Linked DNA regions of Homo sapiens. The protein of the gene in region 3 interacts with the protein of the main gene of each other region in a biochemical or structural test. Each region holds a gene or a part of one and is shown on either strand. Other genes may lie near its edges. The genes, in order: UMOD, TLR4 and FCN1.

The links.
Region 1: the proteins of FCN1 (region 3) and UMOD form a complex in vitro, tested with the Homo sapiens proteins (one study listed by IntAct).
Region 2: the proteins of FCN1 (region 3) and TLR4 form a complex in vitro, tested with the Homo sapiens proteins (one study listed by IntAct).

What each region holds. Positions count from the first base shown.
Region 1 is NC_000016.10:20,341,180-20,351,575, forward strand, and holds part of UMOD (uromodulin isoform a preproprotein), read right to left. Parts: intron 10,000-10,396; exon of another isoform or gene 9,841-9,999; intron 9,661-9,840; 5' UTR 9,559-9,660; coding exon 9,471-9,558; intron 8,691-9,470; coding exon of another isoform or gene 8,592-8,690; intron 8,034-8,591; coding exon 7,257-8,033; intron 7,152-7,256; coding exon 7,044-7,151; intron 5,156-7,043; coding exon 4,947-5,155; intron 2,994-4,946; coding exon 2,845-2,993; coding exon of another isoform or gene 2,742-2,844; exon of another isoform or gene 2,192-2,741; intron 1,376-2,191; coding exon of another isoform or gene 1,235-1,375; intron 158-1,234; coding exon 1-157.
Region 2 is NC_000009.12:117,697,887-117,708,515, reverse strand, and holds the start of TLR4 (toll-like receptor 4 isoform A precursor), read right to left. Parts: upstream 4,114-10,629; 5' UTR 4,044-4,113; coding exon 3,951-4,043; intron 318-3,950; exon of another isoform or gene 198-317; intron 1-197.
Region 3 is NC_000009.12:134,904,649-134,915,044, forward strand, and holds part of FCN1 (ficolin-1 precursor), read right to left. Parts: intron 10,162-10,396; coding exon 10,108-10,161; intron 9,773-10,107; coding exon 9,737-9,772; intron 8,966-9,736; coding exon 8,933-8,965; intron 8,496-8,932; coding exon 8,368-8,495; intron 7,968-8,367; coding exon 7,838-7,967; intron 6,620-7,837; coding exon 6,485-6,619; intron 5,398-6,484; coding exon 5,150-5,397; 3' UTR 1-5,149.

The DNA.
Region 1 (10,396 bases), on a different chromosome or scaffold from region 3:
CAGGTCGCCCCCATCCAACATGGTGCCCACGTAGAGAAAAGCCTCAGTGGACAGTGTCACGGAGGAGCCTTGGTAGGGCTGCGTGTAGGAAGGGGTCTGGAAGAGCGCCATCCGCACGGTGAACATGCCGGTCCCGCCCACTCTGATGTTTAGAGCACTGCCAGGGGAGAAGGGTTGGTGAGAGGACCGGGCTGAGAACATCTGCAGATAGGCCACCTTCTCTGATTTGCATTCCTAGGCAGTCCCTTGCAGTTATTTGCATTTTTATCCAGCAATAAGAGTGGAACCCACCAACTGTTGCTTTGCAAACCGCAATAAGTACACGCAGGTCAACTTGGGATCTAGATAAAATGCAGGCTCTGATTTGGTGAGTATTGGGGTGGGGCTCAAGGTCCTGCATTTCTGACAAGTGCCTGGATGCTGCTGATGCTGCTGGTCTATGGATCAATCACATCTCAAGTAACACATCCAGTCCCTCACTTGCTACTGCTATAGGCTTTGCTACCCCTGTAGCTTTCAAGATGGCAAAAAAACAAATTATTGACAGGAACACCTGGATTCCTTCTTTGGTCTCAATCTAGAACAGGTTAAAAGGTATTGAGCTATGATGAGGCCTACAACTTGCGTCCTGGCCTCCATCGTGATGTACTAACATCTATATCAGAAGATTGAGGTTTATAAATGAGTTATTTTTAACCACACTGAAAACAGCCACACTGATGTGAACTTCACTGGATGATCCAACAAAGGACATTGTAAGGCTGATGCCTCATGAAATAAGGCACATGAGAAATACTCCGAAATGTGGAAGTCCATTTTACAGATGAGAACTGAGTTATCAGTGAAGACTGGGGTGAGATGTCTAACTCGAGACAGAGAGAGGGACCAGGTGCTGTGGCTCACGCCTGTAATCCCAATACTTTAGGAGGCATACGCAGGAGGATCATTTGAGGCCAGGAGTTTAAGACTAGCCTGGTCCATGTAACAAGACCCTGTCTCTATAAAAATATTTTTAAAAATAGCCCAGGGTGGTGTGGTGGCATGTGTCTGTAGTCCTAGCCACCTGGGAGACTGAGGTGGGAGGATTGCTTGAGACCAGGAATTTGAGGCTGCATTGAGCTATGATTGTGCCACTGCACTCCAGCCTGGGTGACAGAGTGAGACCTGGATTCGTAACAAAACAAAACCATAAAACAGAGAGATGTGGGCACACTTGTTGTTCCCCAGAGCCTACCAGGCCGAGGACGGGGCCACATTGCTCCAGGACACTGCTAGGCCAGGTGAGGTTCCAGCCAACAGCTTGCAATGAGCACTCTTCTTCCTCCAAGTCAGCTGTGCACCCTCATCAGTGCCCAGCATCCTTTCCTGAGTCTGGCTGGCCAAGAGAGCAGAAAACCATGGGCAAGCTTCGAAGGGAAGGTCATGGTCAAGTGGAGGCTCTGGACCTGATGTCTGAATCCCAGCTCTATCACTTGCTAGACTTTACAGCTTTGGGTAAGTCACTCAAACTTCTGTGAGCCTCAATTTCCACATCAGTATAATGGGAATAGTAATAATAATGATACCTTTATCTCCTAGGGCTGCTGTAAGAGTTTGATGAGATGTTCCAGGCAGAACACTGGCTATAATGCCTGAGATATAGTAAGCTCTCAATAAATCTTAGTTCTTGGCAGGGCACGGTGGCTCACACCTATAATCCCAGCACTTTGGGAGGCCGAGGTGGGTGGATTGCCTGAGGTCAGGAGTTTGAGACCAGCCTGGCCAACATGGTGAAACCCCGTCTCTACTAAAAATACAAAACTTAGCTGGGTGTGGTGGTGGGCACCTATAATCCTAGCTGCTTGGGAGGCTGAGGCAGGAGAATCACTGGAACCTGGGAGGCGGAGGTTGAAGTGAGCCAAGATCATGCCATTGAACTCCAGCCTGGGCGACAGTACGAGACTCCGTCTCAATAAATAAATAAATAAATAAATAAATAATCAATAAATCTTATTTCTTATTACAACTATAATTTTCCATCATTGGCCTGTGATTCATCCTATTTGAAGATTTTCAATTTTATTTAGCAACAGATTCCTTTTAAAAAAAATAAAATAAAATACTACGTGGCACCCAGTATGAATAGTTTACCCCTGTAGGCACTCTGCCAGGGCACCTCCCTTGGCCCCTACCAAGACACTTGCAAGGAGCGTAATTTTTAAAATCCTCTTTAATCAAATTCCTTTCATTCACAGAGAAGGAAAGAAGTTGAGGTCCAAATATGAAATATGATTTGCCCAGCATTCCATAGCAGTCTGGACTGAGACCATTCCTGCTCTCTGGCACAACCACCCTGCCTCTTTGAAAAGTAGAGACTTTAATATTTGATTCACATCTGAATCATCTACATCAGTTTAATGGTTGAATCTGATTCACATCACAATCATAGCTCTAAGCAGCCTCAAATTCCTGGGCTCAAGCGATCCTCCCATATCATTTAATTCTTAGAGTACTATTAAACCCATTTCACAGATGAAAATATTGACACCTAGAGAGGGACTATCAATTTCCCAAAGCCAGGCTTAATAACTCACTCAAGCTCATACAACTAGTAAGTGACAGAGCTGGGGCTTGAACCAGGCAGTGCTTTGACTCTGTCCCCCACTGGCCAGGGCATAACCATCATTTATGACAAAGTCTAGATTTGAACCTGGGCTCCAGAATTCCTGGCTCTTCCATTGGGCAACCCTGATTCCCAGCCCTCACTCCCAGCTCCCTGTGGGTGGCAGTTGACAGGGAAGCTCATGGTTAAGGGGTTTGGGGTTAGAACCATCTAGGGGCCCTAGGGACCCTCTCTGGCCACACCTGACCATTGGCTGTAGGGCGGTCTTCAGGCTGACTTTCATGTCCAGGGGGTAGGAGCATGCAAAGTTGATTTTGATGTTGAGGTCACGGATGATGATCTCATCTGCCAGGTAGAGGGTGTTGCTGTAAGTGGCATGGGTTTCATTCCTCTGTTGCAGGGAATGGGGGTGGAGGGGGGGTGGGGATGAGAGAAAGGGGCATGAGAATCTGAGTAGGACTTCAAAGCTAAATCTGCTGGTCTCATGTCTGGCTACTTGTGAGCCGCTCTCCTAGTCTCCTTGATAAAAAGCTGCCTGTGGCCGGGCGCATTAGCTCACGCTTGTAATCCCAGCACTTTGGGAGGCCGAGGCAGGCGGATCACCTGAGGTCAGGAGTTCGAGACCAGCCTGTCCAATATGGTGAAACCCTGTCTCTACTAAAAATACAAAAAGTAGCCGGGCGTGGTGGTGGGTGCCTGTAATCCCAACTACTCGGGAGGCTGAGACAGGAGAATCGCTTGAACCCGGGAGGCAGAGCTTGCAATGAGCCAAGATCGTGCCACTGCACTTTAGCCTCGGCGACAGGGAGATTCCATCTCAAAAAAAAAAAAAAAAATCCCACAACAGTTAAAAACTCCCTGTGCAGCCTGAACAACGAGCCAATTAATCATCTTTTCTTTATAAATTAGAAAAAAAAAGTTACAACAGCAATGACCATTCATGCGCATATGTCATGTGCCAGACCCCGAGTGGAATACCCCTCCTGAGTCATAGCATTAGTTCCTTCAGTGACCCTAACAAGTGGCGCTGCCACATCCCTGCTTCCCAGACAAGAAGACAGAGATTCATAGTAACAGAGTCACTGAGGGATTGCCCACAATATGTGACATCTCACAAGACTAGACTGTTTTCAGCACCCCGTGCTTCCTCTCTTGAAAACTGAAAACCATATGCCAAGTCACCATCAATGGAATTTCAAATGCCATCCTTGGAAAATGACATGAATTATTTCTTTTTGTTTGTTTGTTTTGGGACAGAGTCTCACTCTGTCACCCAGGCTGGAGTGCAGTGGTGCAATCTCGGCTCACTGCAACCTCTGCTTCCTGGGTTCAAGTGATTCTCCTGCCTCAGCCTCCCGAGTAGCTGGGATTACAGGTGCCCACCAACAGGTCCAGCAAATTTTTGTATTTTTAGTAGAGAAGGGGTTTCTCTGTGTTGGCCAGGCTGGTCTCAAACTCCTGACCTCAAGTTATCCACCCGCCTCGGCCCCCCAAAGTGCTGGGATTACAGGCGTGAGCCACCATGCCCGGCCAACATTAAATCTTTCTTTTTCTTTCTTTCTTTCTTTCTTCTTTCCTTCTTTCTTCCTTTCTTCCTTCCTTCCTTTCTTTTCTTTTTTTTTCTTTCTTTCTTTCTTTCTTTCTTTCTCTTTCTTTCTTTCTTCCTTTCTTCCTTTCTTTCCTTCCTTCCTTCCTTCCTTCCCTCCCTCCCTCCCTCCCTCCCTTCCTTCCTTCCTTCCTTCCTTCCTTCCTTCCCTCTCTCTCTTTTTCTCTTTCTTTCTTTCTTTCCTTCCTTCTCTTTCTTTCTTCCTCTCTTTCTCTTTCTTTCTTCCTCTGGTAATGAGGGAGGTGGCAGGAGATAATGCTCTGCTCACACAAACATTTACCTCTGGGTTTCATTTGAGGAGGCCTCTGTAGGTGAGGTCCTGATTCTCTGTACATTAAGGATACAGACCTTGCCTTCCAGGACCACTGGAGACAAATAGACTAGTTTCTGAACCCAATGCTGATGCCTACTGGCTGAGACAATCCCTACTATGGCCCTACTTTTCCCATCTGTAAAATGGAGAACTATCACCATGAATTGCTTTCTTTATTTGAAGCTGATGTTTATTGAGCACTTACTGTGTGCAGTCACTGTCCTAATCACTTCAACACATTAACTCATTCAATCCTCTCAATACACCTGTGGAGTAGGTACTATTATTTCTCCACTTTACAGTTGATGAAACTGAGGCACAGCCAGGCTAAATAACTCCCCAAAGCTTCTATAACTAGGAAGTGATAGAGCTGAAGCTTGAACCAGGCAGTGCTCTGGTTCTGTCCCCCACTGGCCAGGACGTACCGTCAACACTGTCCCACAGGGGCCATCCCGGGCTGGGGTCACTACAGACACCCAGTCCCGGTTGTCTCTGTCATTGAAGCCCGAGCACCGGCTGTCACTCAGGTACATGAAGACCTTGTCGAAGCCCAGACTCTTCAGCTGGCACTTGCCCAGCGACACCTTCATGTCATTGGCCCCACATTCCAGCCTGTGCTCCAGGAGGGAGATATCTGAAACAGGTTAGGTGGGATTGAGGACGTGTGTCTATAGCTTGGGGGCCCAGCACATCCCCAGGGGCCAGGTCCAGCTGGCTGGGCTGACCACCATCTGGAAGTGCTCAGCATAGCCTTGAGCTGATCTGTCCCCTCCCAATGTGATGGGGACTCAAGATTGGACCTCTGACATCAATGGATACATCCACTGACCAACCACTCAGTCTTGGGTTCCCCTAAATGTGGGTTATATACCAAATGCAGGACGGTTTTGGGGGGTTTTGATGTCCCAGCATTAAATAACAATGAATACTCGTTTAAAAAAATAAAAAGGCTAGATGCGGTGGCTCATGCCTATAATCCTAGCACTTTGGGAGGCCAAGGCAGACAGATTACTTGAGGTCCAGAGGTCAATTTCCTTGTCTATAAAATGAGAATACGCATCTCCCACAGTAGTAATAGTAGCCAAAGGAGATGATGCAAGTTACATATGTATACATATGTAACAAACCTGCACGTTGTGCACATGTACCCTAGAACGTGAAGTATAATAAAAAAAAGAAAGAGAGAAAGAAAGAAAGAAAGAAAGAAAGAAAGAAAAAGCAAGCAAGCTGCAATTACTTTCTACCCTTTTCACATCAAGGAGACAGTCCCAGCTTGCCACTAATGTCTTTAATGCCATGTACTCACTAACTTCCCTCTCTCTCTCTTTTTTTTGAGACGGAGTTTCTCTCTTCGGCGACAAGCCCAGGCTGGAATGCAGAGGTGCCATCTTGGCTCACTGCAACCTCCGCATCCTGGGTTCAAGTGATTCTCCTGCCTCAGCCTCCCGAGTAGCTGGAATTACAGGCACCTGCCACCAGACTCACCTAGTTTTTGTATTTTTAGTAGAGATGGGATTTTGCCATGTTGGCCAGGCTGGTCTTGAACTCCTGACCTCAGGTGATCTGCCCGCTGCGGCCTCCCAAAGTGCTGGGATTACAGGCATGAGCCACTGCGCCCGGCCCACTAACTTCCCTCTCAAACAGAGAGCAGGCCTCGGGCTGAGAGTTTGGGGCAGGAAACAACATCCAGCCAGAATTCTTGTTTAATTTTTTAAAAATTGAAGTATTTTTCTAATTTTTAGTATTTATTTTTTAAAATTTGTTTTATGGAAGTATTACACAACTGCTGAAATTTAGTAACCTTCTTTTCTTTTTAGTAACTTTTATTTTTACAGTTAACTTTCTGTCTAAGGTAAGCATAACTTGCCACAGACAGATGAAGTCCTGACCATCAACATTCCAAATTTGCTTAAGAGATTCAGTCCATTAGAAGAAAAACAACTTAATAAAAGTCATGGCACAGGTAACACTTGGATAAAGCAAGTGAACCAGGGTGCCAATTGTAAAGTTGGCACTTGGATGTAACTAAAATCATGACTGAAGTCTGAAAATACTATTTTCATCTTCAATAATTGTACCTATGAGAAATCTGAGGCTTGTGCCTGGCCCGGAGTACTGAGCTGATTGGTGGACTGGTCATCAGGCCTGAGCTGATTGGTGGACTGCTCACCGGGCCGGGCTTGTGTTCTGGTGCTGCAGGAATAGGGCTCAGATGGTCTTTGGCTCCCAGATGGCAGCAACGTGGGTGCCCACTGTGGTGTGGGCCTCAGAAAGAAGGCTGGGTGCGAGGAGGTCCCCAAATCTTTGGCAGCTTTGAAGTCAACTAAAGGGAGACTCAGGGAGCCTCAGAGAGCCTCTTGCCGGCTTTAATGGGTATTAGTGGATCTTCTGTTTTCACTCAGGTTGGATATATATCCCCTGCGTCATACCCATATGGCCCCAATCTCACAGGGGAGGAATGTGTCCCTCCCCCAGGCAGTGACAGGTTTCTCAACAACCCGCTTCCTCCCCACTGGCCTCACCAGTGATGTTGAAGTCCTGTTTGCACTGGCAGTGCCATCTGCCATTATTCGATTTGCAGTCCTCGTCTATACTGCACTCCTCACACGTCCCCTCCACGGAGCTGGGGTCTGCAGGGTCACAGGGACAGACAGACAATCAATAAGGACGCACCCCCGTCCTCTGCAGTGCCTTTCCAGGCCTGGGATGAGGACTGTGGGGAGACTCCGGCTGACCTGTGCAGTACGCCAGGTGACACTCGGGGGGCGCTGTCAGGTTGTAGACGTAGTAGCCGCCGGCACAGGCCTTCACCTGGACGGACGCATCCCACAGGCAGCAGTGGCCGCTCCAGTGCGCGCAGGCCTTGCGGCTCACGATGCCCTCGTCGCTGGACGGATGCGTGCCATTGAGCCACATGGGGGCGGCCGTGTTGCAGCGCAGGACTGGCACGCAGGTCTCGGCCATGCGCGCACCGCCCTGGCCCACGAAGCGGTACCAGCCGCGCAGGTCCGTGTCGCAGGCGTAGCCCTCCCCGTACTCGGTGCTGCGCCAGTACTCGTCCAGGGTGCGGTGCGCCTGGCACGGATCCGCGCACACGAGCGCGTCGCCCTCGGGCACGCAGTCCAACCCCGGCCCGCAGGAGCCCGGGGAGCACTCACAGTGCCATCCATCCCCCCGGTAGCCCGCGGGGCATACGCACAAGTAGCTGCCCACCACATTGACACATGTGGCCAGGGCGTGGCAGTGGCTAAGCCCAGGCTCAGCGCACTCATCCACGTCTGTGCAGCCGAGACCGGGCGACAGGCGGAAGCCTTCGGGGCAGACGCAGGAGAAGGAGCCTGGCGTGTTTACGCAGCTGCTGTTGGCGGAGCAGTTGTGAGCTCCAGGAATGGCGCACTCATCCAGGTCCACGCAGGTCAGGCCATCGCCGGTGAAGCCCTCCTGACAGGTGCACGTCGTAACGGCCTCATCCTCCGTGCAGGTGGCATTGCTGTGACATTCAGAGCACCATCCTGTGGACAGAAAAGCCCAGCTTCAGGGTTTGGGCAGCTGGGCCCATGGCCACCCAGAGATCCTTCCCTCATTCTCCAGGGAACTCATTATTTTTAAGACTTATTCCCTAGAGGGCTCCCTCCAAAACAAGGAAAGAAGCAAAGAAACAAAACTCCTCTGATGATGTCAAGCCTCCACCGTTCATTCTGTGTTTATTTCATTGTATTTTTTAACTTTATTTATTTTTTTGGAGAGGGGTCTTGCTCTGTCGCCCAGGCTGGAGTGCAGTAGTGCGATCATAGCTCACCATAGCCTCCAATTCCTGGGTTCAAGCGTTCTACTCCCTGAGTTCAAGCCACCACCGCACCCTGCCTCAGCTTCCCAAAAAGTTGGGACCACAGGCACGTGCAATCGCGCCCAGCTCCACCATTCATTTTTTGTGTTAAGCATTGCTTTCAAGCTGTCTTCTTTTAAAATAGCCACATTCAGAAAAGTAATGCGCAGAATTCCTATACTTTGGTAGGATTTACGGTGAACCTGTTGCCCCTCCCTTTCTTTGCACATTTTATGTTTTCTGCTTCCCTGGCTGGTGAAATCTTCATCAGGACCCTGCTCAGTGTCGCCTCCTCTCTGCGGAGTCCTCCAACTCCACCTGGCTGGGCAGTTGTACTTTGTTCCTCCGTAATAAAAATAACCATTAAAAAAAAAAAGAAGCTGTTGTTTATTAAGCAATTACTATATGCCAGGCAATAGGATGTGCACTTTTCACTCACTATCTTGTTGAATACTTCCCAAGGGCCTCGTGAGGTCAGTTTTTTATGTATCCTTATTTTAAAGATGAGGAGACTGAGGTTCAGAGGGATTAAGCCCCTTACTCCTTTGGTAAGAAGTAGAACCAGGATAAAAACGCAGATGGCAGGACCACAAAATATGTGCTTTTAACCAGGACACCGCAATAGTATTCATCGTGCCCCAACGTACTCCAGGGAGAAAATGAAAGTGGGGTGACAGCAAATCTCAACCCAATGGAATGACCTCTTAAAGTTGAAAGGGAAGGTGTTTGGATCCTCCTGCATGGGTTCAAATCTCCTATGTGATAGAGTATGTTTCTGACTTCCAATAAAGGGCCTGCAGGCCTTAGAGATGTTCTAGCCCCTTGCTTTTCAATGTGTACTCCAGGGACCCCAGTATGAGCATCGCCTGGAAGCTTGTTAAAAATTCAGCATCTCAGGTCCTACTGCAGATCTGCTGAACCAGAATATGCACTTTAGCAAAATTTCTAAGTCAGTCCTGTGCATATTGAGTCTAAGAAATGGACTTAGAATGAAGACAATGCAAGTCTCAAGTGCGATAGGAGGATTGAGATCACCTCTGACAGGTGCTACATTGCTTCCCCCACACATTCACACATACACGTGCATACACACATATACAACGCACACACACTTTTCACTTACTTGCTTCTGAGGTGTCAGTGGCTGCAGTTGTGATGAACCAAGAGGCCACCACCACCATCAGCATCCAAGTCAGAGATGGCTGCCCCATCCTTTCTGCTCTTCCCGCTACTTCAGGTCTAGATAGCACCTGCCCAAAGGAAAGACGGGTTGGCCCTTTGAATTTTTCTCTCTGTCTCTGATGTCTGGTGTCCTGTGAACAGAGATGGATGGGACAAATGCATGATCTAACTCTCCTCCCCACAGCTGGAAGGAGTGCTTTGATTGTATAGTATACAACTCCAGGAGGTGTCACTTATATGGACTAAAAAATTGCATAACACTGCAGCCCTTGTTTTGCTGGGACTTTACCCCTTGTACTCCCCCTCCTTACCTCACCAACATCCCAGTCTTGGCTCCCCAATTCTCAGCACATTGCACATTTTGAAGAACTCAGTCATTTGGAGCAGGAAGTAGCCAGATGGAATAGTGTTCTGGACTCACCACTTTACTGAAGGCAGCTTTGGATTTTAACTGATCCTCTGCCTGGAAACTTTCAATTTGCCTGGATCACTTATTCATTCAACAAACATCTATTGAGTAGCTACATTGTGCCAAACAGGGAGCTAGTCACCATGGAGAACAATGAACATGGCAGTCTGCTCCTTCATGCAACTCACATATCGTAAAGAAGTGGCTTGAGACGAGCAACTTGAGAGGTAATTAACCTTCACAATGCATTTAAATGTTTCTGGAGTGGTCACTTACTATTTCTTCCAATTGGAAAAATAGTCCAGGGTGGATGCCAGTATTACCCCAGTGTTTATAGCAGCAAAATAGGGTGGCATGTTGGTTAAGTATGTAGGAGCTGCAGCCTGCACCTGAGGTTCAAATCCCTGCTTTACTGATCACTAACACTGTGATGTGGGTATTTCAGTTTACTAAGTCTC
Region 2 (10,629 bases), about 17 Mb from region 3:
CAACTCCCCTCTCCTAGACCAGAGATGGTGGAGAGGGGCCTCTTTTTGTGCAAGCACAAAATTCAGTCAACCTTTCATCCATCTGTCCATCCTTCCATCCATATATCCATCCATCCATTCACTCAATTCATGCTTATAAATTGTCTTACTCTAGATTAGAAAGTAAAGAGCACCTACTACGTGCTCAGCATTCTAACCTCCGTGATAAAACGGCAGCATTTAGCAAGAAGCAATGGAATCGGGGTGAAGGGCTGAGGCTCCGGAGTCTGAAAGCTCTGGGTTTCATGCCAGCTCTTCTGTGTGGTTTAGGGCCAAGTCTTTAAAAACAAAACAAAATAAAACGAACAAAAGAAAAACCTCAGTGAGCCTCATTTTATCATATGTAAAATGTAGGTAATAAAATATCCAATATCGTGCTTGCTGCAGTAGCACATACACTAAAATTGGAAGGATACAGAGAAGATGAGCATGGCCCCTGCACAAGGATGACACACAAATCCATGATGCGTTCCATATTTTCATGATCTATGCAGCAAATCACCATGGCACACATTTACTTATGTAATAAACCTGCATGCTCTGCACATGTGCCTCTGAACTTAAAAGTTGAAAATACAAAAAATAAATAAAATATCCAGTATCATTTTAAATACTCCATATCATTGGGGAGACTGTCTGGCAGTCAAGATGTCCAGACCTTCCTTAGTCATGGCCCAGATTTTGACAACTGCATTCTTTTTCTTGGCTCATTGACCCTTGAGCAAAGTGATGTAGAAATAGGGGGAAATCTTTAGAGTGCATGGATTCCCATGGTGGAACCTAGTAAATAAGGTCAAGTGCTTTATGCTGTCTTTGTTTTTACACTGCTTTCTAGCCTACTTTCCCACATTCTTTGTAAGCCTAATTCTCTAACGCTCCCATCTAATTTCTGAATGCTCTCATTTCCTCCAACAAAATTCCTTGCAGAAGCCAGCTAATTGTAGTTTTCTGTTGTTTGAAACCAATAGAATGTTTGAAGGATTAAATGAGATAAGGTGTTTAAAGAGTTTATTTAAAAGCCCGCTACAGTATAAGTGATCAATAGATGTCAACATTAATTATTATCATCTATCATTAATCCCTTACCATATGCCTGCATAGTTCTTGTTTGTTATATACTTTCACTTAATCTTCAAATAAGCATTTAAAGATGAGGAAAATGGAAATTCAAAGAAATGAAGTAATATGCGCAAAGTCAGAGTTCAAACATGCAGATCTTCATTCGTATGTCTGCTTAAATGTTGCAAGCCATGGAGCCTCAAAGACAATATTGTCTAATAGAAACAGTGCCAGGCACTCTTTCTTTGCCCTCTTTTATTCCCTTTCACGGGAAGCACAACCATCTAACATTATGTTGTCTATCTGATTGTTCTCATCGTATTGTTCATCTCCTGTATTCCATTGCAAGTTTGATGGGTTTGCCCACTGCTTTGTCTCCAGCACTCAGAATGGTGTCTGGCAAATGGTTGGTGCTCAATAAATATTTGCTGAATCACTAACTGATTGAATAACTGATTAAATGAAGGTTTACTTAAGTCCAAATTGTAGGCATTTCCTGCCAAGTGCTGTGGGCATTACAAAGAAAAATATGATGCAGCTCCAGACTTCAATGGACTCACAGTCTAGAGTAAGAGTTTAGATAGGAGCAAAGCTAACACTATCTCAAGGGGCCATAAAATAGGCTTAGAAAATATGCCCTGTGGTTCAGAGAAAGCAGAGATCAAGTCTGGATTCAGGAAAGGCTTCCCAGAAAAGGAAGATTTTAAAGTGGGTCTTGGAAGATGAGTAAGGTTTAGATATGTGGAAAGGGGAAGAAAAACATGTCCTAAGGAGAGGACAACGTGAGCACGTAAAGAGTGGAAAACAAACTCAGATTAGCTGGTGAGTGGTGGGAGTGGTGAAATCTAAGTAAGAGGGCAAGCCAGATCAGGAGGGCCTCAGACTTTGTCCTGCAGCAATTATTTCAATCATTTATCACTTACACATCTAGCGGCTACTGTGTGCTGGCCACTGGAAATATAGTGGTAAATAAAACCAGCAATGATCCTGCCTCCTTACCGATTCCATTACAAAGGGAGAGAGAGAAAATAAACAAACAAAAATATAAAATGTTGTGCTCTAGAAAAAAAAATATTAAGCAGTATAAGGGGATTTGAGGCAAATAAGTGAGGCTGGAGAGCTCTACATGGGGCAATCAAGGAAGACTGCCCTGAGGAGGGGACATTTAATCAGAGATCTGAATGGAGTGATTAAAGCATGAAAAGGACTTGGGCTGCACTGACCAATACGGTAGTCACTAGCCATACACAGTTATCAAACACAAGAAATGTGAATAGTGTAAATTGAGAAGTGTGGTAAATGTAAAACATATACTAAATTCCAGACTTAGTACCAAACAAGGAATGTAAAAATATCAATAATAGGTAAATATATATTAAAATTTTAAACATTATTTTAAATACGCTAAGTTAAATAAAACTATTATCGAAATTAAATTCACTTGTTTCTTTTTTTAATGAGGCTACTAAAAACTTTAAAAGTACATATGTGGCTCACATAATATTGCCAATGGATAGCACTGATCTAGCATTCTAGGTAGAAGAAATAGCCAGTGCAAAGGCCCTGTGGTAGAAAGCTGTTCTAATGGCAATGGAGAGTTATTAAAAGTTTTTAAGGAGAGTAATTTGTTAGATTGAAGCCTAAGGAAAAATAATAACAACAAATGCAAGTACATAACAAACAAGAACGTGCAGAATGAATTAAAGGAAGAAGACTGGAATCAGGAAAGCAGTTAGTGTGTAAGAGTCAATGCCAGGGGAAATGAGGGCCTGCCTTACAGTGGAACTAAGGGGATGGGCAGGGATGGACAGGCTTCAGGGACTGACAGGAAAAGGTACATGGGGAAAAGAAGTCAAGTTTGGCTGTGGTTTTATCTCGCAGTGAGCCTAATTAGAAAATCTATCTCCATTAACCTAACAGCAGAGGGATACAGAGAAGAGGACAAGGAGGAGGACTATGGGCAGGGAATTGAGGGAAGGGATGGCTTCAAGATAATGAATTAGTCTTTGCTAAATATTACTTGATTTTCTCCTATATCCTCAACTTCAGGACTGCAGCTGGCTTTTTCTCTCTTGAGTTTCTGACCCTGCCTCACTGTAAATCATTTTCTTAGCTGTTCGGCTCTACTATGGGTTTCTAAAGCAACTGTGAAGTCTGCGCAGGGGAAAAACAAAAGAGATCCATCATGAATAAGATTACCAACCAGCTGATTGGTATTTCACTAAGAAAGAAACTGTTGCATTAGCTGACATTATACATATTTCCCTCTTGCTTTTTTCTTCTCTCTCTCTCTCTTTTCCTTTTTCATTCTCTTATTTTTTTCATCCTCTGGACTAAACTATATTACTGCATACAGAAGTCTGACACCCACTTAGAAAGTTCTTTCTCTAGAGACACACACACAAAAGCCATCTTTTTCCTGAGATTGAAAGGAGCAGGGTGACTGCTTGAAGCTGAGTGTAAAGACCACCAGTGGGAAGAAATGACACTGAAGCAGTCTGCTTACTCTCTAGTGAAGAAGGTATTATAATTCTCTTACAGATGCGAAAACTAGTCTCAGACAGGTTTGATAATTTCTTCACAGAGCCACAAGGTAGCAGAGCAGGGACCTTAAGCAGATCTATGTTATCTCATGCCCCTGTTAGCACTCAAAATTTCCAAATGGAACAAACCCCCAATGGCTGCCTCTAGTGCCCTGTAACAATGAATTATTTGATCTCTGTGGCTTCTTGAGTCTTTAAGGTAATTTAACTCTTTTTTTTTTTTGCAAAAATAAACAAACCAGGGCACACAGTGAGAAGTTCTGGGCAGAAGTGAGGGAAAGTTCAGAGGAGCTGACTCCAGCCACATACCTCCACGCAGGGCTCCCAGCTTTCTGGTCTCACGCAGGAGAGGAAGGCCATGGCTGGGATCAGAGTCCCAGCCAGGCGCGAGGCAGACATCATCCTGGCATCATCCTCACTGCTTCTGTGAGCAGCAGTGGCCCTGTGAATGCGTGGCTCGCTATCACCGTCTGACCGAGCAGTTTCTGAGGCACTGGTGTCTTCTCTTCCTCGAGCCGCCCCACAGCAATTGGTGTATTCAAAGCAGTTCTGGGCTAAAGGGTGAGAGGAAGTGAAAGCGGCAACCTTAGCATTCTGGACTTTTGTTTCTCTAATAGTTATCTCTTTTGTCACAGGAGAGGAAGTTAGAAGAAGAAAACGCCTGCAGACCAGTGGCTAAAGAAACAGCAAGAGGAAGCTAGTTGGCTTTTATCCCAATTAGTCATCTGACCTCTGCCTGGGCTTGGTGAATTTAGGAAAACAATCAGGTTCTATTAAAATAGCCCTTGTAACTCTCTAGGATGACGGTGATTTTCCAATTTTGTTTCAGCTGTGGAAACACTATTTGTATTAGTTTGCTGGGGCTGCCATAAGGAAATACCACAGACTGGGTGGCTTAAACAACAGACATTCATTTTCTCACAATTCTAGAGGCTTCCAGTCTGAACTCAAGGTGTCAGCAAGTGTGTCTGAATTCTAATCTCCCCTTCTTATAAGGACACCAGTTATGTTGGATTAGGGCCCACCATAATGACCTCATTCTACCTTACATACCTCTTTCAAGGCTCTCTCTCCATATACAGTCATAGTCTGAGGTAGAGGGGTTAGGACTTCGATATGTAGGTTTTTGCAGGACACAATTTGGCCCGCCCCTTCTTGTGAAGAAACTCACATACAAAACTGAAAATAAACCTCAACTGAAACACAGTTTGAAAAGTACAAGAAGATTGGGAAAAGTCTGGGATTTCAGAATGGAATATACTGAAGTTCAGATCTCAGCTGGGTGACTCATGGCTTTGAGGCATTGGTCAAGTCATGTAAACCGCTAAGCTTTACTTTCTTTCTTTTCTTTTTTCATTTTCTGTATTATGGTAAAATCACATAACATAACATGACATAACATAAAATTTATTATCTTGACCATTTGTATGTGTACAATTTAGTGGCATTAATTATGTTCATATTTTTGTACAATCATCACCACTATTCATTAATAAATAACTCCCCATTTCCCCTTTCCCTAGGCCCTTGAATCTATGCACTACTTTTGTCTCTATAATCTTGACTACTCTAGGCAGCTCTTAGAAGTGGAATCATACAGTATGTATCTTTTTGTCACTGGCTTATTTCACTTTGCATAATGTCCTCAAGGTTCTTTTCTGTGTAGTATAGATCAAAGCCTCCTTCCTTTTTAAAGCTGAACAATATTCCATTGTATGTATAGACCACATTTTGCTTATCCATTTGTCTGTTCATGGACACTTGCATTGTTGCCACACGTTAGCTATTGTGAATAATGCTGCCATAAACATGGTTGTACAAATATCTCTTAAAGTCTCTGTTTTCAATTCTTTTGGATACGTACTCAGAAGTGAGATTGCTGGATCATGTGGTAAATCTATTTTTAATTTTTTGAGCACCCACCATATGATTCTCCACAGCATCTGTACCATTTTACATTCCCACAAATGGTGTACAGGAGTTCTCATTTTTTCACATCTTCACCAACACTTATTATTACTTTCTGGTCTGTAAAATGTGGTAATCACTTTTAATCATAGCAGAAGCTTGCATTTATAAAATGTATTAAAATAAAGATACGCAATGGTAGTCAAATTATACAAACCTACCAACCTTTAGTTTTCTGGTCTTTAAAACGAAGATAATCGCATGTGTTTTGAATTACTGAATTAAGCTAACTTACGTAAAACGTCTAGTCTAGAGCATCATCATTACATTCCATAAATGAGAGCTATGATGAGGATTGAAAATGTGGATAGAATGAAGATGATAATATGTATCTCAAAGTATTGTATTGGGATTAAATGAACTGGCATTTGTAAAGCTTTTAGGACAGTGTCTGGAAAGTAGCAAGTGCAATGTAAGTTTCTGTTAAATAAGAACCTGATTTAAAACAGGAATATTATGCATGCTAAGTCCTAGATAGTTCTACTGTAATATCCTCCAAGCACTTCCAATCCAACGTGTCAAAAACCAAGCTGTGAGGGACCATTTTGTGGTGGACTGGGCACAAACTCTTGTAGACTCCATCAACACACCAGTAGAGTTAAGATAAAAACAACCTCCATGTCAAAGCTTTGCTCTGAGTATTGAGATTATTCATGTAAAGATTTTAGAGCAGTGCCTGACACAGAGTAGGTGCTCAATAAAGTTTAGTTCCCTGGAAAGTTAATGGTGTTTCACTTTGACATAGTCATCCAAGGTGGAAATCTCTTTGACTTTATTTCCCTTACTTCCTCATTTCTCATGCTAAACATGTATTAACCCAATTGTCTTCTTTTCTGTGTTCTTGATGTTCTGGCATCTGGGAAGAGACTGCACTTACCAGGGCTAGTTAGTTCTAAAAAATAGCAAAAGATTTGCTCTGGAGCATGCCTTATGCACACTAAGCAATCCAGAGCCCTTCCTCTGAACCACCTCCTCTACCTGGCTTTTACACCCAAGTAGACACCGTTATTCAGCCCTAATCATCACAGGTCCAGGTACCAGACAACTAGAGACAGACCCTCTACCCCAGAGCCCACTGAGGTTATTCAAACTAGCCAGTCCTATCCCTGCTTACCCTGCCTTGCCTTGCCTTTTCTGCAGTAACAACAATAAAAGCTTGTGCCTATAATTTCCTCTTGCTCCCTCTGCCTCCTGACGGACTCTGGTGCTACCAATGTGGCCCTGCATGGTGTGGCATGCCCCCGCTTCTTAGGAACTGTAAACAACAAACTATATTTCCAGTGGCATCATCTTCTGATCTGTTGTTTTCACCATAGCCGAATAATAAAACCTACATTTTAAAAAATGTTCCACCAAGTTGTAGAAATTGTATCTGTAAAATAATTCCAAAATGTCAGTCGCCATTTCTACTACCATTACTATTGAACATATCCCACGGCCTAGACTAGTTCAATATACTTTAAGAAGCCTCCCAAAGTCTAGATTCACCTCTTTCAATGTACCAGCTCTTCCAATTGATTCTTCATCCTGCTGTTGAAAACATCTTTCTAAAATAGAAATACGTTTAACTCATGTCATGCTAATAATGATTTCAGGCTGGGTATTGCCTAGATAAAAAATCTCCTGGCCTACCCCCATCACATATACACATACAGAAACACTCCACTTCCTAAGAATGAGAAACAAATATGTGGGTCATTTCAAGCCAGACATAACTAGACCCCATTACTGGGACACAGTGCTTAAGTGAATAGAGTAATACAAGTGTGTAATAGACAAATGCACTTTCTTCCCATCATTTGGAGAGGAAACCGCTTGATAGTCTAGATGAGGAACTAAGGAAAAGGGCCCAGGGAAGTCCTTTCAACTATGTTTTCGGAGATGTTAATACATGTGTTTTATAGAAGTCTTCCTGGAAATTTTTCCTATGTGTGATTGGAGAATCCCTGGTGGTGACTTGTAAAGAGGTTTCCTTTTCCTGGGAAATGAATGGGATTAACACTCAATCATTTACTGACCTTAATCAAAGACATCTAGGTTCTATGTTGCTCTTCCAGAAGGCAGACCATGTGTCAAATACAAATTAGAAACTGTAAGCCCCTTGGTTATCAGATCTAACTTGCTTATGTTGATGAACTTACCGATGCAGTATTATAATGAGGTAAGACCGTGGTGATTAGTTACCATTAGGCCTATAATTTCTCCCACAGTAGAATAATAACCACCTCTTGTTTTCTTTTTTTTTACTTTTATTTTTACATTCAGAAGTACATGTGCAGGATGAGCAGGTTTGTTACATAGGTAAACGTGTGTCATGGGGGTTTGTTGTACATAATTAATCGCATCTTAAGCATAGTGGTAGAGATTTGGCCAGAGGCAAAACAAGCCACTTGATCGCCTACATCCTTCATGCAGAGCAAGTTCAACTCAGGACCCATAATCAGTCAGTCAATGGAGGAATCCCATATTTGCCAGGGACCTAGAAGTGTTTGCTTTTATTTGGCAGGTAATGCATATGCTGTAAGAAATATGCACAAAACTGACAAGTGTTAGACTAAGCTAATTGCTGTATAAACTTCCAGATTTTATTGTGACTTAATAAAAGTTTTCCTGGCTCATGAAACACTCAATGAGGATATTTCTGATTGGATTACCCCAGGTATGATTCCTGGTTCTAGGCTTCTTTTATTTCATTATACTTTCATATTCAACATGCAGCCTCCAAGTTTACTGCAGAATGTGAAGAAAGTAGGGGATGATATCATGTATTTAACTACCTCTGCTCAGAAGTGACATGCATTATCTCTGCTCTCATTGCATTTGACCAAAACTAGACCCAACACAATACCAAGTTGCAAGGGATCTCTATCTTCTAAGCTTCAAGGCTCTTCCCCCTACCCAAAACTTAAACACACACACACACTTAATGGTGAGCACCACTTCACAGCACCAATACTATACTGTGGAAGAGGAACACAAAATTCTGTTGATCAGCAGGTTGTATTTATGCCACAACCTTAGAATCCTATAATTTCCATTGCATAGTGATTTTAAAAAAGGTCCCATTAACCTGACATATCTAAAAACCAAACCTCATTCCATCCAACCATCTCAAGTTTTTAAGTTTCATGTTTTTTTCATGTCAACACCTCTCAAAGCAGAATGGTTCTCATATAATTGACAATATAGTACAATTATAATTGGCAGAGTTTTTTTTCTTTCTTAGTGGCAAATAAAGTAATGGTACACCTTATAATCAGTGGTACCTTATATACAACAACAGTTTGTTACTAGGAAGAAAAAAAAGCTCTGTTCAGGTAAGTAAAAGAAACAAATAGTTAAACAGAGAAAAACAGATTTATTTTCTAAGGACTCCTTAGAACATGTATTAGACTAATGTTTATTTTGCATCTATGAAAGGAGATAGAGTACTCAATGTTTCCCAACTTTTTGACCCATTCAACCCTCTTTTATCCTTGGACACCCATTACCAGTCCAGAATCCATTAATGTGCCATGGACCAATGCTCTTGTGGTATATAGTACAGAAAATGGTGCTTTTAAGCAAAGGCATAAAGGGTATTCTCTTGGCTCCAGGTGACTTAATTCCTGTCTCTATGGTGAGGTCTTCACATTAAGTACTGCCCTGTGCATCTCATTATTTTCCTCCCAAACACCCTGTACATTTCAGTATGTTCTTCACAAGTACAAGAGGTGAGTGAGTGCACCCTCACAGGTAATCAGCCTACATAGTGCCATCTCCTCCCCAGACCAAAATGTCTATGACCTTTCCTGTGTTATTTTTTAAATTACTTTGAATTTCTCATCTCTTTATTATCTGCCTCTACCAGTAGAATACAAACTCCATGAGAATGGAGGCCTGGTATGATGCTCACAGTTATTAAATGCATGGGTAGATACATAGTTAAGTAGTTGATGAATACATCTCTGAACAATATATCTGTATTTATTTTTAACATGTAGTGAGTATCTTAGAGTATTTGTCACCTTTGCATATTGAGCAATGTGACTATCTTACTAGAGGTCTATTGATTATTCTGGGGCTTCTCTTATACTTTTCTACATCCCTATATTACATTGAGATTCATGTACCCTAGTTCAAGCAACAGAGAAGGACAGAGTCATAGCAAGTGGATTTGAAAGGAAGTCTTGTTGCAGTAAACACTATGTTTTTTCCTGAGGTAGAAAAATCCTTTTTGTCTATTTATTCATGAATAAATAGGCAAAGGATGGTTCATTGCAGGCAAGAGGGTTTTCCCTCTTTGTTCTGACTCCCAGTTTGGCCAGTGAATCCAAGCTTATTCATTCATACCGTGGAAGAGCATGGTGTAATATAGAAAAGGTGTACTAGCCCATTCTCACACCTCAATGAAGAAATACCCAAGACTTGGTAGTTTATTTAAAAACAAAACAAAACAAAACAACAACAACAACAAAAAAGAGGTTTAATTGACTCACTGTTCTGCAAGGCTGGGGAGGCCTCAGGAAACTTACAATCATGGTGGAAGGGGAAGCAGACATGTCCTTCTTCACATGGTAGCAGGAAGGAGAGGTGCAAGCAGAGGAAATGCCTGGCACTTATAAAACCATCAGATCTCATGAGAACTCACTCACAATAATGAGAACAGCAGCATGGGGGTAACTGCCCCCATGATTCAATTACCTCCCACCAGGTCCCTCCCACGATATACGTGGCGATTATGGCAACTACAATTCAAGATGAGATTTGGGTTGGGGCACAGCCAAACCAAATCTGAAGGCTATACTTTAAAATATTTCATTATCCTTTTTACTTTCTGGCATCATCATTTTTTGTGGGTGTCACTAATTTTTAACATCATTGAGTTTCCTTAAACCATACAACAAAAATAACACTATGGCCTAATTAATAATATTATCTGAGGGGTAAATGAGATCTTGTGTGTGGATGTATTTGTAAATGTTACAACTTTACACAAATGTTGACCATAATTCATTCATTTATTTATACACCAAATATG
Region 3 (10,396 bases):
GCACACCTGTAGTCCCAGCTACACGGGAAGCTGAGGCAGGAGAATTGTTTGAGCCCAGGAGGTGGAGGTTGCAGTGAGCTAAGGTCATACCGCTGCACTCCAGCCTGGGGGACAGAGTGAGACCCTGTTTCAAAAAATAAAAATAAAAAATATATATGAAAGGGAGTTTGTCAGGCAGCAAGAAGATGATCTCACACCAAAAATAATAATAATAATAAAATAGAAGAAGGAATAAAGGGCAACATAAAGTGTAAAAATGTGGTAAAAATGAATACGGACTGCACAAAACAATACTAATAGCCATTTCTTGCAGGACTTTAAATAAATGTATCATAGCATGGCGGCAAGAATGGCATAAAAAGCAGAAGGGAGTGAATGTAGTTAGAGGTGTTTCAAAGTCTTCATTGGTAAAGTGGTAGAAGGAATAATTTATAGTATACCGTAAAAAATCAAGGCTATATATTGCAATCGCAAGCATAAACACCAAAAGATAGGAAAAGAATGAACAAGTTATAAGCTGATAGAGGAGGTGACGGGATAATAAAAATATTCAACAAAGACGAGAGAAGATGAGGAAGGAGAGGAAAAGAACAGAAACAACACTATGTGGATGTCCACGAATGCCCAAATGTTGCTGGATGGGCCCACGCCTACACTCCTACTTGAGAGGTCCCATGGCCAGGAAGAAGAGCACTGGCCCAAGAGGAGGAGGGCTTGATTTCTTTTCACCCATTCAGCTTTATCCCTCAAATCACAAAAGCTCTCTCAGTTCTGCTGATGTGAGTTGGGGAGGAATTGGTGATGGGAAAAGACTCTTCATCTCTTCATAAGCTTGCTTTGCTTCTTTTATTTTGAGACAGAGTCTCGCTCTGTCGCCCAGGCTGGAGTGCAGTGGTGCGATCTCGGCTCACTTCAACCTCTGCCTCCTGGGTTCACGCCATTCTCCTGCCTCAGCTTCTCGAGTAGCTGGGACGATAGGCATCCCCCACCATGAACGGCTAATTTTTTTGTATTTTTAGTAGAGACGGGGTTTCATCATGTTAGCCAGGATGGTCTTGATCTCCTGACCTTGTGATCCGCCCGCCTCGGCCTCCCAAAGTGCTGGGATTACAAGCGTGAGCCACCGCGCCTGGCCGCTGCTGCTGCTTCTTCTTCTTCTTCCTCTTCTTCTTCTTCTTCCTCTTCCTCTTCCTCTTCCTCTTCCTCTTCCTCTTCCTCTTCTTCTTCTTCTTCTTCTTCTTCTTCTTCTTCTTCTTCTTCTTCTTCTTCTTCTTCTCCCTCTCCCTCTCCCTCTCCCTCTCCCTCTCCCTCTCCCTCTTTCTCCTTCTTCTTCTTCTTCTTTTTATTTTTATTTTTTTTTTGAGGCGGAATCTCGCTCTGTTCCCCAGGCTGGAGTGCAGTGGCACGATCTCAGCTCACTGCAACCTCCACCTCCCGGGATCAAGCGATTTCTGGCGGAGTTTTGTATTTTTAGTAGAGAGGAGGTTTCATCATGTTGGCCAGGCTGGTCTTGAACTCCTGATCTCAAGTGATCCACCCACTTCAGCCTCCTAAAGTGCTAGGATTACAGGCGTGAGCCACTGTGCCCAGCCTGCTTTGCTTCTTAAAATTAATGTTCAGTTTCTGAAAGCTACAAATTCAAAAACTCAATTCATCCTGAATATTTTAAGTTTGGCTTACAGTTCTTGTTTTTCTATTTATAAGACCTGCAAATCTTAAGAGTCACCTTTTTAGAGCTTTTGGATACCATAAATTTAGTTCTTTAAATAACTTCAAACATTTAAAATTGCAATAAGAAGTGGAATACACTCAAATTTCTCCTGCGGCATTTCAGCTGTCTAATGAGAAAACCCTCCTTAGCACTAATTAATCTTTAAAAATCTAATAATTTAACTTAAATCTTAAGAAATCTAATAATTTAACTTAGAAATGCAATGAGCTCAAAGTCTCTTAAATATGCCAATACCGTGTATAAACGCACTAAGATTTCCATGTAATATTACAAGATGATTTTGATTAGTTAGTTCCACATTTTATATTGGATTTGTGAGATTCTTCATAATAGGCCAAATTATTTAAACATTACAAGACTGTGAAAAATCAAACCTGTCCAGATTCCTTAATACAAAAGGCATATTTTGGCCAGGCACAGTGTCTCACGCCTGTAATCTCAGCAATTTGGGAGGCAGAGGCGGGTGGATCACTTGAGGTCGGGAGTTCAAGACCAGCCTGGCCAACACGGCGAAACCCCATCTCTACTAAAAATACAAAAAAATTGCTGGGCATGGTTGTGTGTGCCTGTGATCCCAGCTACTTGGGAGGCTGAAGCATGAGAATCTCTTGAACCTGGGAGGTGGAGATTGCAGTGAGCTGAGATCACGCCACTGCACTCCAGCCTGGGTGGCAGAGTAAAACTCTGTCTCAAAAAACAAACTAAAAGGCATATTTCTATGGCTATTTTATATTTATATTAATCATATTTATATTTTATATTTATACTAATCATTTCTAGACTTAAAGCTAAGTCTTCCTAGGTTGTAAAAATGCTTACCTACTGAGGGACGAAAGTACTATCCCAATAGTGGATTTTGTGATGGACTAGAGATTGTGGCAGGGGCGTAGTAGGGTCTGGTCAGCCCCCAATGGGCTACAAGGACCTCTCCTTACAGGTATTGAGTCAAGAACACTGGGCATCAGTGGAGGATGTGCCTGTAGCTCATGTTCCTGGATCCAAGCATGTGCAGTTTCTTTATAAGTAGTTTTTAAATTGTGGAACATAACATGTACTCAAAAGTGTATAAAGCAAAAGTACAGCTTAATTATTTTCATCACTAGTTAACAAACATCCTTACAATCACCACCTGGGTCAAGAAACAGAGCATTGCCAGAACCCCAGAGGCTTGTCCCTGTCCCTTCCCAGTCACCATGTGGTCCCACCCTCAAATACAATCACTTTCTTATTTTTCCTGTATACATTTACCACCTAAATATGCATCCAAAATACCATTGGCTACTTTTGCTTTTGAAAAACTTTATCTACAATGGAATCCATAGCACATACCCTCTTGAACAGGCTCCTTTTGCTGCCATGTTTGTGAGACTCATGCTCCTTGTGTGTAGGTGTCACTGTGTAATTGTCATGGCTGTATGGCGTTCTACCCAATGGCTATCCTTGCATTTTTTAACATCCATTCTCTTCCTGATGGGTATGTCGGCTGATTCCAGTTTGGTGCTATGGTGAGTATTTGGCTGTAAAGATTCCTGGCCATGCTCCCTGGTACACATGACGGCCATATCCAGGCCCTGATGTGGGACTGGCAGGTTAGAGGACTGTGTGTCTTCTTCTCCAACAGTTGATGCCAAGCCATTTTCCAGGTTGGTTCCATCAATTCGCATTGTTACTAGCAGTGTATGCAAATCTCCCTCCCACAGTCACCTTTGACACTGGTGCTATCCATCTTTCTAACTTCTGAGGCTCAGATGAGGGTGCCGCAGTGACTCCTTTGGGTGCTGATTTGCATTTCTCTGGTAAGTGAAAAGTGGAGCACTTTTTGATAAATACCTTGCTCCCCTGCATGTCATCTTCTGTGAAGTGTCTGTTCACATCTCATACCTTTTTTTATTTAACTGAGCTGCTCTAATTCTTTTATTATTTGCAGGAATTCTTTCAGGTATAAGCCTGTGATTTATTTATTTTTGTATAAGGCATGGTAGGCAGAATAATTCCCTGCCCCCACCACTGCCCCGCCAAAAATGTCCTGCCCTAATACACACAAAGTCAGAGCCTGCAAATACCTTCCATGGCAAAAGAGACTTTGCTGATGTGGTTAGGGATAGAGACCTGGACATGGGAGAGGATCCCAGATCATCCAGGTAGGCCTAGTCTAATCCCATGAGTCTCAGGAGTGGAGACCCTGTCCCATGGGGCTTGGGGGGAGAGGGGACAACGGATGAAGGGTCAGAGAGATGTGGTGCTGCTGGCTTTGGGGTTGGGGGAAGGAGTCCGGGCCAATGAATGCCAGTGACCCCTGGGGCTGGAAAAGGCAAGGAAGCAGGTTCTCCCCTAGAACCCTGGAAGGAGCCACCACTGCTGAGTCCTGCCTGCTGGCCCAGTAAGGCCCAGGGACTCCAGATCTACTGAGCCAGGAGGTGGCGAGTTCTTGTTGTTTCAAGCCACTCCATTTGTGGTGACTGGTTGCGGCAATAGTAGAAAACTAAAGATTTGTGTGCCGCACGTTGATTCTGCCCCTCTGGCCTTCCTTTGGTTCCCTTAGTGTCCTTCGGTAAGTGGGAGCTCTTGATTTGAATGGAGTCACACTTGCCACATTCCCTTTGATGCTTCTTAGGTCGTGGTTGAGAAATCTCCCCTGGCCTGGGAGCTGGAGAAGCCCCTTCTCCATCATCTCCTAGAAGCCTTGTGCAGCTTTTCCCACTGAGGTCCGCGGTCCCCTCTAGCTGAGGTCTGTGTGTGGGAGGAAGGCCTCTTCGGAATCTTCTCTGTGCAGGTGGCTGACCAGGCGCTCACTTAGTGAGTGCTAAGTGTTTATCTCTTCCCAGCAGCCAGCCAGCCCAAAGCATGAACTCTGCCGTGGTGGGAAGCAGAAAAGTTCCTACTAAACTTTCCCCCTTTTTAGTAAGTGTTTTCTGGACCCCAAAGTGACCTTTTTCAAGAAGTGTGAAGTGTTGTGAGTGAGGCATGGGGGGATGGGGGAGGCTTGGGGGTGGAGGTGAGGATCGCCCTGTGTCAATTACTGGAGGTGGAAAATCCTCGCAAAAGTCACTCAACCTCCCTGAACATCGGTAGTGCCATCTGCTAAATAAGGGTCCTGACTCTTCCCGACTTACCAAATTCCAGGGAAAGACCTGCCGTGCAACAGACACAGGAAAGTGATCAAAACCACTGGTGTTCAAGAAACACACATTGAAACTGGTAAAACTTTTCTGTCCCAAAGTAAACATATTTAGAAACATAATTCTCCCTCTGGTGAGGTTGTGGGCATGTGGCGGCTTGACTGAGCTGGGGGCAAAGGGGCAGCTGTGGGCGTCATGGGAGTGTGTCTGGCTGGGGAAATGGGGTGACTTCCACGACGCAGCGCTTGTGGGTGTGGCCTCCCCACTAGCAGGTGCATGTGGAGGGGTCCTGGCCCGTCTAGGCGGGCCGCACCTTCATCTCTGACACCTTGTAGCTATATTTGTACCCCTTCGCCGCACTCCAGTTGATACCATTGGCATAGCTCTCATGGGGTCCCATGAGGTAGAGACCATTGAGGTTTGAAGCATGACAGTCGGCGTACCACCAGGCTCCTTGGAACTTCTCAGCACAATTCGAAGAACTCACATCATTGTCTTGGTCTTTGGTGGAGAAGAAGTTGTTGTTGTGGCCCGTTAGAGAATTACCTGCTCACAGAAAATGTGGGGTTTGCAGATGCTGGAAAAAGCCCTGCCACTGTGAGACCCTCACCACATCCTGCCTCTGAGCAGAGCCAACCTCACTTTAGCGACGCATGAGCCGAGCTACAGGTGCACAAATGACCCACCCAGGCCTTGGAGGAAGGGGAAGCAGGAGGCAACCTCTGGCAACCTGGTCTGGAAATCTCTCTCCACAACCTGAGGCCCCTGCTCCAGCAACCACCTGTTTCCTCCAGGGCTCCCGCAAACTGTCAGGCCTCCTGCTCTCTCCTGGAATGACCTCCCTCCTCCAGCCTGCGCCGCTCCTTCCGGTCTCTCCCCACGTCCCCTGGTGGCCCTTGGTAGGTTCAGGACAGCCCTCACCTGGGGGCTTCTCCTCTATCTCAAGCCCTGAGCCGGAAGCTCATCCCTGGCTCCTATAGCTGAGAAATGTCACCCCCTGAGCCTCGGTTTTACCACCTGCAAAATGGGGGTGACCTTCCCTGCCCTGCTGCCTTCCTTGGAGGTCATGCGTGAGATCGTGCCTGTGAAAGGACTGCACAGACTCCAAGGCTGTCATTTCCAAGGCTCCCCTGGGACTGCCTTGCTCCATGGAGCAGTTAGTTACACAGACTTCCAGCTGCAGCAATTCTCAGTGCCTTTCACGAACGATGTGCACTGGGAATTCCCTAAGCAGACGCCCTGTAGGAAATGCCTCCCCAGATCGTGTAGCCAGAGACTCCTTTTGGTAAAGAATGTCCCACAAGGCTGGTGTTCCATGGAGCACAGTTTGGGAAACAGCTCCAAGGCACCCATGAGAAAAGGACGACGTCTTCCAGGTTTCAGCAGTGATGCTGGTGGGTCGTCTCAGCCCTGCCCAGGCAGCTCACTGTGCGGCAGACATAGCCTTAGGAATACCAGCCGCTATGTCCTGTGAGCCCCACGCTGTACAGAGACACAAATGCTAGTGTCTGCTTCATAGATGGAGAAATGGGATTCAGAGAGAGGAGGGCCCAAGGTCACCAGGGGAGACAGAGCCAGGTTCTCTCTGCTTTCCAAGCCCCACTCAGGCCACCAGCCCCAAGCAGACACTCACCCGCACTGCCCCCGACAAAGGCTCCCAGTACCAGCTTGTACTTCTCTGCCTCGTCAGCCACCTTGAATGATTTGTACTTAGCAAACTGGTGGTTGCCCTCAAAGTCCACCAGGTCTACACGGAGCTCGCTGCTTCCTGTTGGAAAAAGATTTTAAGGCCCCAGCCTTTAAGATCTTTCTGTCACCAGGCATGAGGGCTGGGGATGGGTAATTTTTTTTTTTTTTTTTTTGAGACAGAGTTCCGCTCTTGTTGCCCAGGCTGGAGTGCAATGGCACCATCTCAGCTCACTGCAACCTCCGCCTCCTGGGTTCAAGCAATTCTCCTGCCTCAGCCTCCCCAGTAGCTGGGATTACAGGTGTGTGCCACCACACACAGCTACTTTTTTTTTTTTTTGTATTTTTAGTAGAGATGGGGTTTCACCATGTTGGTCAGGATGGTCTCGATCTCTTCACCTCATGATCCACCAGCCTCAGCCTCCCAAAATGCTGGGATTACAGGTGTGAGCCACGGTGCCCGGCTGGGGATGGATATATTCTTAAGGGATGTCTGAACGTGGCATCCAGGAAAAAAATCAACCGGAAATGTCAGAAAATCCCTTGTTGCTATCAGGCCCTCAGGGATGGCTTTCTGTTTCTAAACACCTTTCCCGTTATTTCAGAGAACTGAACATGCCCCACTGGAGTTCACTGGGTGGAAGGGAGCATTCTTTCATTTTGAAAGTGTACCTTCTCCTTCTAAGGGTTGGTGAGCCACTAACACAGCAGTGGGCGAAGCTCTAATTGTAGTTTCTTTTGCAGGAATTTGAGGCACCTGAGTGGATTCCTTCAATCATGCCACAGGGCAGTGGGCAGGGATAATGGACCAGCAATTATACAGACTGCCTCAGGACCAGCTGTGAAACTCATCCCCTGCCCCAGAGGGTTGGGGGGAGGCCCTCTCACTCAGGTGAGTGCGGCTGTGGGGGGCCTGCTGAGGCGTGGGCTGGAGGAGGCGAGCGTGGGCTCTCCATGGGACTAAGATGCCAGCTTCAGAGGCAGATCAACAGCTGGAGATGGGGGAAGGCTACCCCAAGCCCCAGTGGTCTCTCTCCTGCTTCCCACTCTCAGGATCTAAGATGCCAGTAGGACCAAGACCTGAAGAGGCCTTCAGCCCAGGGCTCTAACCGTTTCCCTTCCCGATGTTGCCAGAGCCTGCGGCAGGGGACGCAGCCCTTAGAGGTCCCAGTGCCACCTGAGTGTGCTCAGGGCCCAATCCCCTGTGGGCCAAGAGGTGCTTATGTTGCAGATGGCCCAGGCCTAAGGGGCAGGAGCACCTCAGGGCCCCCCAACCCCTGAGCCACGGCAGTGGCCCTACCCTGGGCAGTCAGGGCGTGGATGTTGTCATTCCCCAGCCAGAACTCCCCCAGCTGACTGCCGAAGCCCTGCTTGTATGCGGCCCAGTCCCGATAGAAGTCCACAGAGCCATCCATCCTCCGCTGGAAAACCTGTGAAGAAGCCAGGATACAGAGTTAGGCGGGGCAGGCCGAGGTCCCACAGCACCGGGGACCCGCCCTCCAGAGGAGCAGCATTTGTAGTTGGCAGAGCATCACAGGCCGGTGCCACACGCACGCCCATCTGGTCTCCTCACAGACTCCACAGGATGAAAGAGGAAATGCGGTCTCAGAGAAGAGAGGCAACAAGCCCCAAGCCACACAGCAGGAGAGCACCGGTCCCCTCCCAGCCTCCCCGATGGCCTGGACTTTTACCCACGGGTCACTTCCCCCATCATCTATGATTGTCCCCATCCAGGGGAATAGAGAATTCCAGAGTGTGTTCTACAACCAGGTGTGCAGCCTGGCCTCCGGGACTCCCAGGCTGACCGCCTCTGCCCAGCCCCACACTCACGGTCCAGCCCCCTCCGTCCGTGTCCATGTCACAGAGCACAGTCAGGGGCCGGCAGTCGGGCAGGTAGATGGTGTGCCAGCCGCTCAGGAAATACCCCCGGTCTAGCAGGTCCTTGCAGTTGCGTGGGCCTGGGAAGGGAACCCGGGGAATGGCTGCAGGACGGGGGCCCTGGGCAGGACAGGGGCAGTGGGAGGGAGGCCCAGGAGGGAGGAGGAGGGCCACAGGCTTCTGTGCGGACCGAGCAGGACTCCGAGGCCTGGACAGGGACACGGCCCCCAGGGCCACGCAGCTGTGATGCCCACACCCAGTCTGCCGACCCTCCCACCTCCCAGTGTCTGCCCCACCTTTGCCTCCTGGGCACCCGGCCTTCTAGGGTAGATAATAGTAGAGCCCAGGTTGTCATGGAAGGGATTCAGGTGATAGCTGCCCATTACTCGAGTGATTGAGGGGGGGATGATAGGTGCAGACAGGGTTCTGTCCTTAGATTCCGTAGCGTGAACGTGTGCAGCTGGCCCCAGGGGTGGGGGCAAGGCTTGGGTACCGAGGTCAGGGTGTGATCAGTCACCTGTCGCACACGACTGAGACTGCCCAGCGTCTCCTGTGTGGGGAGAGGAGACACTTGTCATAAGCTTGAAATCAGAGCCTTTGTCCTGGTCAGCCCCAGTGGCTCCCTGAGCACAGAATAGAGAATGGGCAAAGGCAGCTCCTCTGATGTCTCCAGGACACGTGGCACAGGCCTAGGGAAGGATGGCCAGACTCGACTTCCCCAGAGGCACCAGCCACATGGTTGTCCATAGGCCCCTGCTGTGCAGCTTGAGCTTGGTGGGCTGTGGCAGGCGCTGCGGGTCCTGCTGGACGAACTGGACCCCTAGTGGGGCCTTCGCCACTGATAACAGCGGAATAACTCTTCAAGCCTGGCAGGGTCACTCCAAGCCTGCCCTGCCTCCGCCCTGGCCTCTGTTTCTTGGGACTCAGGTATCGGCGGACCCTCAGCCCCCGGCTCCGGTTTTCATTTGTGTTTGTGGGTGGAGCGTGGTACAGTGTATTAGAGTCTTGCACATTTGGCTTTTTTAAACTTTTACAATTTTTGCATAAATGAGCATAAGTAAGACAGAAATTGAAATATTGAAGTGTCACCATCTATGCACTGATGTGGTCCTGCTGGCCACTGGGAGTGACTGCTGTAGACACCAGGGTTTGAGCCCTCGTGGATTCTGACAACAAAGCCCGCTGGACTCCTTCCACCCCTCCCTGCCCACAGCCTGGATTGACAGGGACGTGGGCGGTGGGCAGGCGGACTGAGGCCTCTGAGACCCCTCCCCTGGACAAAGCCTGCAGAGACAACTGCCTGGGCCCACGGGTGGCTCACCTTTCTCTCCACGCATCCCCTTCTCTCCTCGGTCTCCTGGAGGAAGAGGCAGGATAATGAGCTTTTGACCCCAGATGTGTGGGCCACGGAAAGGCTGGTCCAGAGTGGGCTCCCGGCCTGGACACTGCATCTCCCCAGCCCTGCAGGCTCACTAAGGCATCACAACGCCCAGGTCTCAATGGTGGGGAGGGGCCCCGAGGCCTGGAATATCCCAGGGTCCCTGTCCGCCTGCCACTGTCTTTCTCTCTCTGTTGCCGTGTCTCTCTGTGTCTGTGTCTGTGTCTCTGTCTCTGTCTCTCCCTCCCTCATTTCATTACAGACAGCTCCAAGGTCCCTGCTCAAGGCCTCCTCGCTGTCTGTCCCCTGGTTACCTTTGGGCCCCACTGGTCCTGCCTTTCCAGGGGCTCCAGGGAGACCGCGTTCTCCTGAAAATTCCAAAGACATATCACTGAGAAAAATGCAACCTAAACAATTCTCCCTGGAAATCTTTGCCCCAAGTGGTTAAGTCCTGACCCTCCCCCACTCTGCCTTGAACCCCTTCTGGTTCCAGGAGCTCTCAGAATTGCTAGCCATGGATTTAGCCTGGGGGTGACTGCAGATGGAGGTGAGGGATTGAGGGAGGGGCCTGCACCCCACCTTGGGCTCAAGGCAAGGTGCACC